Homo sapiens: one gene and its partner. The protein of the gene in region 2 interacts with the protein of the main gene of each other region in a biochemical or structural test. Each region holds a gene or a part of one and is shown on either strand. Other genes may lie near its edges.

Region 1 (3,748 bases), on a different chromosome or scaffold from region 2:
ACAAAATTAGCCACGTGTGGTGATGCGCGCCGGGCGTGGTGATGCACTGGGGAGGCTGAGGCGGGATGATCACTTGAGCCTAGGAGGTCAAGGCAGCAGTGAGCTGTGATCATGTCACTGCACTCCAGCCTAGGCGACAGAGTGAGACTCTTGTCTCAACAAAAACAGAAATAATAACCTCTAGAAAAGATAGCCACTGCGTGAGATCACCTGAGCAATACTGTGGGAAGAGTGTCTAGGGAGGAGGAAACGGGGATTCATTTTCTTAAAAAGCACCAAAGAGCTGGGCGAGGTGGCTCACGCCTGTAATGCCAGCACTTTGGGAGGGCGAGGCGGGCGTATCACTTGAGGTCAGGAGTTCGAGACCAGCCTGGCCAACATGGTGAAACCCCGTCTCTACTAAAAATACAAAAGTTAGCTGGGCGTGGTGGCACGTGCCTGTAATCCCAGCTACTCGGGAGGCTGAGACAGGAGAAACTCTTTTTTTTTTTTTTTTTTTTTTGAGACGCAGTTTCGCTCTGTCGCCCAGGCTGGAGTGCAGTGGCATGATCTTGGCTCACTGCAACCTCCACCTCCCGGGTTCAAGCGATTCTCCTGCCTCCGCCTCCCGAGTAGTTGGGATTACAGGCGTGCGCCACCATGCCCGGCTAATTTCTGTATTTTTAGTAGAGACGGGGTTTCACCATGTTGATCAGGCTGGTCTCGAACTCCTGACCTGACCTCGTGATCCGCCCGCCTGAGCCTCTCAAAGTGCTGGCATTACAGGCGTGAGCCACTGCAAGGGGAAGCTCTTGAGCCCGGGAGGCGGAGGTTGCAGTGAGCCAAGATCGCACCACTGCACTCCAGCCTGGGCGACAGAGCTGGACTCCGTTTAAAAAAAAAAAACAAAAAACCCCGAAGAGCTAAACTTCAGCACCTCCAGGCTGCTGATGTAACCATCCTGCCGGCAGAGAAGCCGGGCCAGCGGGGCGTGGGAGGAGCATTCCCGAGTCCGAGAGGGAAGGCCCGGGAGCCACGCGGCTCAGGAAACCGCCCCCGCGAGGGGATAGGAGGATACTGCGTGGCCCCTCCTTCCGTGACTCTTCTTAAGGCCCTTCCTCTGAAGGGGGCGATCTCTTCCTCAACCCAAGGAAACAATGCTCTCGAACCTATGCCTGCAGCTCTGCTCCAGGCCGCTCACACAGTGCCTTCCCTAAAAGAACTCAGCCACATGGGCTACAGGGATGAAGGGTTGGGGGGAAACAAATCCAGGTGTGCGCTTCGACCGCACGCGCCTGCGCCAAAACCCCGCTTGGCCCTTAGTTTCAGCCTCTGCTGCAGCGCCTTCGTCCGCCTCCTTTTTCCCGCCCCCGCCGGGGACGTCACAAAGAGTGACGTGTAAAGTGAACAATCACAGTCCCTCTCCGCGCGTGCCGGGAGGAATGAGAGGGAGGTGGGCGGGGAGAGGACGGAAGGAGTAGGCTTCGGGAACTGGCTGGTCCCGGTCACCCAATCAGAGAGCTCTGGGGAGGGGAGGGGCGGGGCCCGAAGGAGGGTGGGGGGTGGGGCTGGGGAAAGGAGTTGGAAGGCTGCGGGAGGAGAAGGCGGGCTCCCAGAGATTAAAAGCACCCAATCAGAGCGCGCCGGCTTCATTCGGAGAGCGGCGTGGGGCGTAGCCGCCGCCGCCGCGCGCGCCGGGGGCTGGTTAAGGCCATGAAACAAAAGAAACACTGAGAGGGGAGCCGCTGCCACCTCCACCAGCCCGCCCCGCCGCCGTCCCCACCCACCCACCTAGTTACCTACCTCTGCCTCCTTCCCCTGCCCCTCCACCCCGCCCTCTCCGGTCTCCGGGCGGCCCTGGCGCTCCTCGGCCCGGGTCCCCAGCCCCGCCGCCTCCCCAGAGGAAAGGTGTTTGCGAGCTGAGCAGGGCCCTGGCCCTGTCCGCCATGGGGCTCGCCGCCTGCCGCGCCTGACCCGGCCGCCGCCGCCGCCATTGACAGCGCGCCGCCGCGATGCCCAGCGGCAGCTCCGCGGCCCTGGCCCTGGCGGCGGCCCCGGCCCCCCTGCCGCAGCCGCCCCCGCCGCCGCCGCCGCCACCGCCGCCTCTGCCGCCGCCCTCGGGCGGCCCGGAGCTCGAGGGGGACGGGCTCCTGCTGAGGGAGCGCTTGGCCGCGCTAGGCCTCGACGACCCCAGCCCGGCGGAGCCCGGCGCCCCGGCGCTTCGGGCCCCGGCAGCGGCGGCGCAGGGCCAGGCCCGGCGGGCGGCGGAGCTGTCTCCAGAGGAGCGGGCTCCGCCCGGCCGGCCCGGGGCCCCGGAGGCGGCCGAGCTGGAGCTGGAAGAGGACGAGGAGGAGGGGGAGGAAGCGGAGCTGGACGGAGACCTGCTGGAGGAGGAGGAGCTGGAGGAAGCAGAGGAGGAGGACCGGTCGTCGCTGCTGCTGCTGTCGCCGCCCGCGGCCACCGCCTCTCAGACCCAGCAGATCCCGGGCGGGTCCCTGGGGTCTGTGCTGCTGCCAGCCGCCAGGTTCGATGCCCGGGAGGCGGCGGCCGCGGCGGCGGCGGCGGGGGTGCTGTACGGAGGGGACGATGCCCAGGGCATGATGGCGGCGATGCTGTCCCACGCCTACGGCCCCGGCGGTTGTGGGGCGGCGGCGGCCGCCCTGAACGGGGAGCAGGCGGCCCTGCTCCGGAGAAAGAGCGTCAACACCACCGAGTGCGTCCCGGTGCCCAGCTCCGAGCACGTCGCCGAGATCGTCGGCCGCCAGGGTGAGTGCAGGGGTGGGGAGGTCCAGCTGGGCATGGCCCCGGGCGTGGGTGGGGAGACGAGAGAAAGGAGCGTGGGACGGAAAAGGCGAACCCGGCGAGGCCCCCAAGTCCACCGCGAAGGGGTCTGGGAGGAGCCGAGGGTCGACCAGATGTGAAGATGGGTCACCTTGCGAAAACCCACGCTTTTCCGCCCGTCTTGCCTGGTAAAAAGTGTGAAGTTTCTCGGGCGACCCAGTCCGGTGGTGTTCACGTTACTTGGGCTGTATTCGTGGAACACCAGGCTGGCGTGGCACCAGAAACCTCAGTGAGGTGGTAAAAGGTCGGGCTCGAGGAGTTGTGGGTTCGCTGTTGGGTACGGAAAGCTTCGAGATTGCAAGTTTGCGCCGCCGAGTGTCTTCTAAAAGCGTTCAGCCTCCCTTACAAGAACTTGTTCAGATGGAGAAAAGAACAGAAATGGAGGCCTGTAGACAGAGCTCACTGGGGAGGGAAGGGGTGTTCAAATGGTCGGTATCACCGCCATCCCCTGCCCCTCCGCTGTTGAGAAACTTAGCTTTGGAAAAGCAGCCCAACTCACTGCCGCCTATCTTAACTGTATTTCTCTCGGTACGTTTCAACTCTCGGAAAGACACACTGACACACTGGCTGTCTTTTAAAACTGTTCAGTGTGCAGGATGAAGAAAAAATGGACACTAAGGTAATTAAGAAACTTCATCGGTTTATACAGTTTTCAGTTAATTCTCCTCTTCACTTGCCAGCACACCAGTACTGCAGACAGACTCCTCCCACATTGTTCAGACAAAGGACCTGTGTCTCAGATTCCAGGAGTAGATTTGTGAAGGTGGGGGAAGGGGATGCCTGGGGTACCTCTGTATCCGACATTTTTAGGGAAGGTCCTAAGTTCTTTATGGTAGCATTTCCCCTTTATGAAAGGGGCAGATGTTACCTGCTGCCACCGCATGACAATGTGGTTTAGCCTGGTTGTTGCATGCCTCTTTACTGTTAG
Region 2 (3,748 bases):
GCCACAGCAAAGAATGGTGATGCTATTTATTCAACTACCCTTTTAAAAGTATGGCAAACATGTTCAAGAGGAGCTACAAAGGACTTGGGATGGTACAGGGCCCAACTGTAAGCTTTCTTAAAAGTGATGCCTTCAAGTAACTTCAGACATGTAAGCTGCTGCACATCCAAAAAGTCTAAGAAAATATTCCAGAAACTCAGAGATTACCTACAGAATGCATTTCAGGCTAATTATGAATACTGCCATAAATAAAGTTTTAATTAGGACTCGAAAACCTTTCAGTCATAGCAATTCTTGTCAAATTCTATGGGGATGGTAACTGAAATAAAGTAAGGAGAGTATGTATAATATATATTTATATATATAATATATATAATGCCATTTTTCCATTTCCAATGACTACACCATAAAATGTAAGCAAGGCTTCTCAAAAACATTGAAACATTCAAAATCAAAACCCTCATTCAGACCTTCACATTCCAAAGGAAAAATAATAACAGTGCAAAAGCCCATTATAATGTCATTATTTATGACCTGGCCCTCCATGTTACATATTGGAACAATAAAGTTACGTTTTAATATGCGGTGCCCGAAATTGTAACAAAGAACAATATTTATAACTATCTTCAAAACATGAAGTTGATTTTCATTTTAGGTAACAATTTTCAGCTTTTATGAAAGACAAGGTGGCATATAAATTTCAATGGTGAGGTGTTAGAATAGTTGTCTCTAACTTTACCAATTTAACTTATGAGCAATCAATCAATACTCTATATATCAATGTTTAAATATAAATGTGTAAATCCTAAGAGCTTTGTTAAAAATTTAAAAATTGTTGAATGAAACTGACAAGGTATGGAAAACGTGTCAACATTATTTACTAAGAATATTTTAGATGAAGTTCTGCCTAATCTATTTGCCATCAAACTCTATAAATGCTGCTCTAGTAGGTCCTATTCAATCTGTATTTGTAAATTAACTAGGTCAGACCACAGCTAGTGAACAATTTCAGCACCAATAAGTTATTGAAAATGGAATTTTATACCATTAAGAAACAAAATGGCTGGATATTCAAATGTCAAGGTGAAGGTATAATTTGAAGACACCAAATTTCTGGAAAAAAAAACCTTTTTAATAATATCTTCACATTAGCTTTACAATAGTAGTTGTACTCCGCTTAAAATCGTATGCAGTCTGGGCATATCAAATATATGATGATTTTTTTTAAGAAGTGAAATTGAAGCCCTAGTCCCAACTCGGGGGAGCACTATGAAGAAATGATTCAACACTGCACATTTAAAAAAAAAAAAAAAAAAAAAAAAAAAAACCCTATTCTTTCAATAGCAAATCAATAAAGCACATGTAGGACAATTTCTACTGAAAAATCAAATGTCTTTTTTTTGTGTGCAGCATTGAAAGTTTACTGCAACTCTAATTTCCTTTTTAACACAAATGTCCTTTTTAATATAAACATTATATGTATTCAGTATTCAAGTAAAATTCCCTAACAGTTAATGACATTTAAAAAATGTGCAAAACTGCAAAATTCATTGTAATAGAATGTGTAAGGTCAAAAGGGTGGAACGGCTGACAGCTATTGAATAAGTGCATCATAAATCTTCAAAGAAAAAAAACGCTTACTGTAGAATCTCAAATTGAAAATTTCTGTGCAGCATTACAAAATATTTTATATTTAATGAGAAAAAAGAAGCTTGCAGGCAGCACATGAAGCATCCACAGCAGGTATTATGATTGAAAACTAGTAAAATAAGTGTAAGTTGTTGACTGATGTAGGTACTAACAGCATCTGAATTTTAGCACTGGCCTTGATTACACAGGAGATGGAGAAGTCGTTACAATTGAGAAAACATATTTAATAAATCATTGTCAATTTTTATAATGTTTCAAGCCCATTCTTTGTTGATAGCCTCCACATTTATATGGTTAAGTCATTGTTGCTGTGTTTCTTACCTATGACATTATTTTTATATCCCTTCATTTGTGGATCTTAAGATGTTGCAGAAGGTTCATTCCTGTACCCCAATACAGATTCACTTCCTTTAGCTGCCTTTTCTAGCACCAATATGCTTTAAAAAAAAATGCGCAAACAACAAGCAGTGACAGCGGCCAATTCCTCGAATGTCCAGATTAATAACTGTAGCATGCTAAAGAAAGGTGTGTGTAAATAGCTGGAGATGGTATATGGTCCAGAGTCCAGCATAAAATTATTTCCTTTCTGAGCATTCCCTCCATTCCCCTAACCCGAATACATGCATTAGAATGTAGCAAAACCCTTCGGAAACCTCTCTTAGCCAACTGCAAACTTATCTGTTGCCACAAGTGCAAAGGGGTAGGATGTGAACCAGTATATCACAAAGCTCTTTAGCCACTTCAGTTGGTGACAGAACACAAAAGGAAAAAATTCCTACGTATACACATCAGTCTGTCTCCACTTTTTATAAAACTGGAATAAAACGGGAAAGTGCCATCTTTATTAATCCTAATTGAATTTTAAATGTCCTTTTGACACAAAAAGGTATATACATGACACAGCTACACAACCTTTTTTCAACTGGACAACAAGTGTCAAAACCCTGTGGATGTATAGGGTAAAACAAGATTGGTCAGGAAAAGAGAATTGTTCCTATAACTGGTAATCTGACACAATGTCCTATTGCCATTAAAAAAAAAAAGGTCCATTTTCAGTTTATTCAAGTTTATTTTCATGGTGTTTTATCCCTCTTGATAAAAAAAAATTCAGACTTTTGTAATTTGTGTATGCTGATCTTCATCAAAAGGTTCATTCTCTGGATCAGAGTCAGTGGTGTCAGAATATCTATAATGATCAGGTTCATTGTCACTAACATCTGGTGTTACAGAAGTTGAACTGCTAGCCTCTGGATTTGACGGCTCCTCTACTGTTTTTGTGAAGTACAGCTTCACCTAGAGAAAGAAAATTTAAAATGAAAACCCACAAATATGACTCATCTTAAACTATTTAGTGAAATATATTTTTAACAGATTTTTTATTCCATTTTGCAGATGAACATATTAATTTTTAAGCACTGTAACAAACATGATCTTTAAGAGGCCTTTTAAATGACCCTCTTCTTAAGATGTTCAACATTTTCTTTCTTGCTAGGTACTAAACAGATAAACTATCAGGATGTTAATACAATTTATTTATTTTTATTTCTGGAGACAAGAGTCTTGCTCTGTTGCCAAGCTGGAGTGCAGTGGCATGATCTTGGCTCACTGCAACCTCTGCCTCCCGGGTTCAAGCAATTCTCGTGCCTTAGCCTCCCAAACAGCTAGGGCTACAGGTGTACACCACCATGCCCAGATAATTTTTTGTATTTTAGTAGAAATGGGGTTCATGATGTTGCCCAGGCTGATCTCAAACTCCTGAGCTCAGGCAATCTGCCTGCCTCAGCCTCCCAAAGTGCTGGGATTACAAGTGTGAGCCACCACGCCCAACCTCAATTTTATTTTTTAAGGAATATAAGTGGCAAATATTAACTAAATAATTATACAAAATAAATGCAGATTGAAAGTCATCAATAGTTTACATAATATAGCATTTGAATTACAAAATTCAATTCACAAACAGCTGAGTTCAAAAAGAATGTTTCTCTTACTACCTATGTGAAAAATCAATGTATTTCTTTGTGTGTGTGTGTGTGTGTGTGTGTGTTTTTGAGACAGGGTCTTGCTCTGTCACCCAGACTAGAGTGCAGTGGCATCTTCA

What was found. Proteins that work in one complex are often made in the same cells at the same time.
Region 1: of the proteins of PTEN (region 2) and MEX3C, one has a biochemical effect on the other in vitro, tested with the Homo sapiens proteins (2 studies listed by BioGRID).

Annotation. Positions count from the first base shown.
Region 1 is NC_000018.10:51,195,564-51,199,311, reverse strand, and holds the start of MEX3C (RNA-binding E3 ubiquitin-protein ligase MEX3C), read left to right. Parts: upstream 1-1,630; 5' UTR 1,631-1,991; coding exon 1,992-2,745; intron 2,746-3,748. UniProt on the Homo sapiens protein: E3 ubiquitin ligase responsible for the post-transcriptional regulation of common HLA-A allotypes. Binds to the 3' UTR of HLA-A2 mRNA, and regulates its levels by promoting mRNA decay.
Region 2 is NC_000010.11:87,964,482-87,968,229, reverse strand, and holds part of PTEN (phosphatidylinositol 3,4,5-trisphosphate 3-phosphatase and dual-specificity protein phosphatase PTEN), read right to left. Parts: intron 2,944-3,748; coding exon 2,758-2,943; 3' UTR 1-2,757. UniProt on the Homo sapiens protein: Dual-specificity protein phosphatase, dephosphorylating tyrosine-, serine- and threonine-phosphorylated proteins.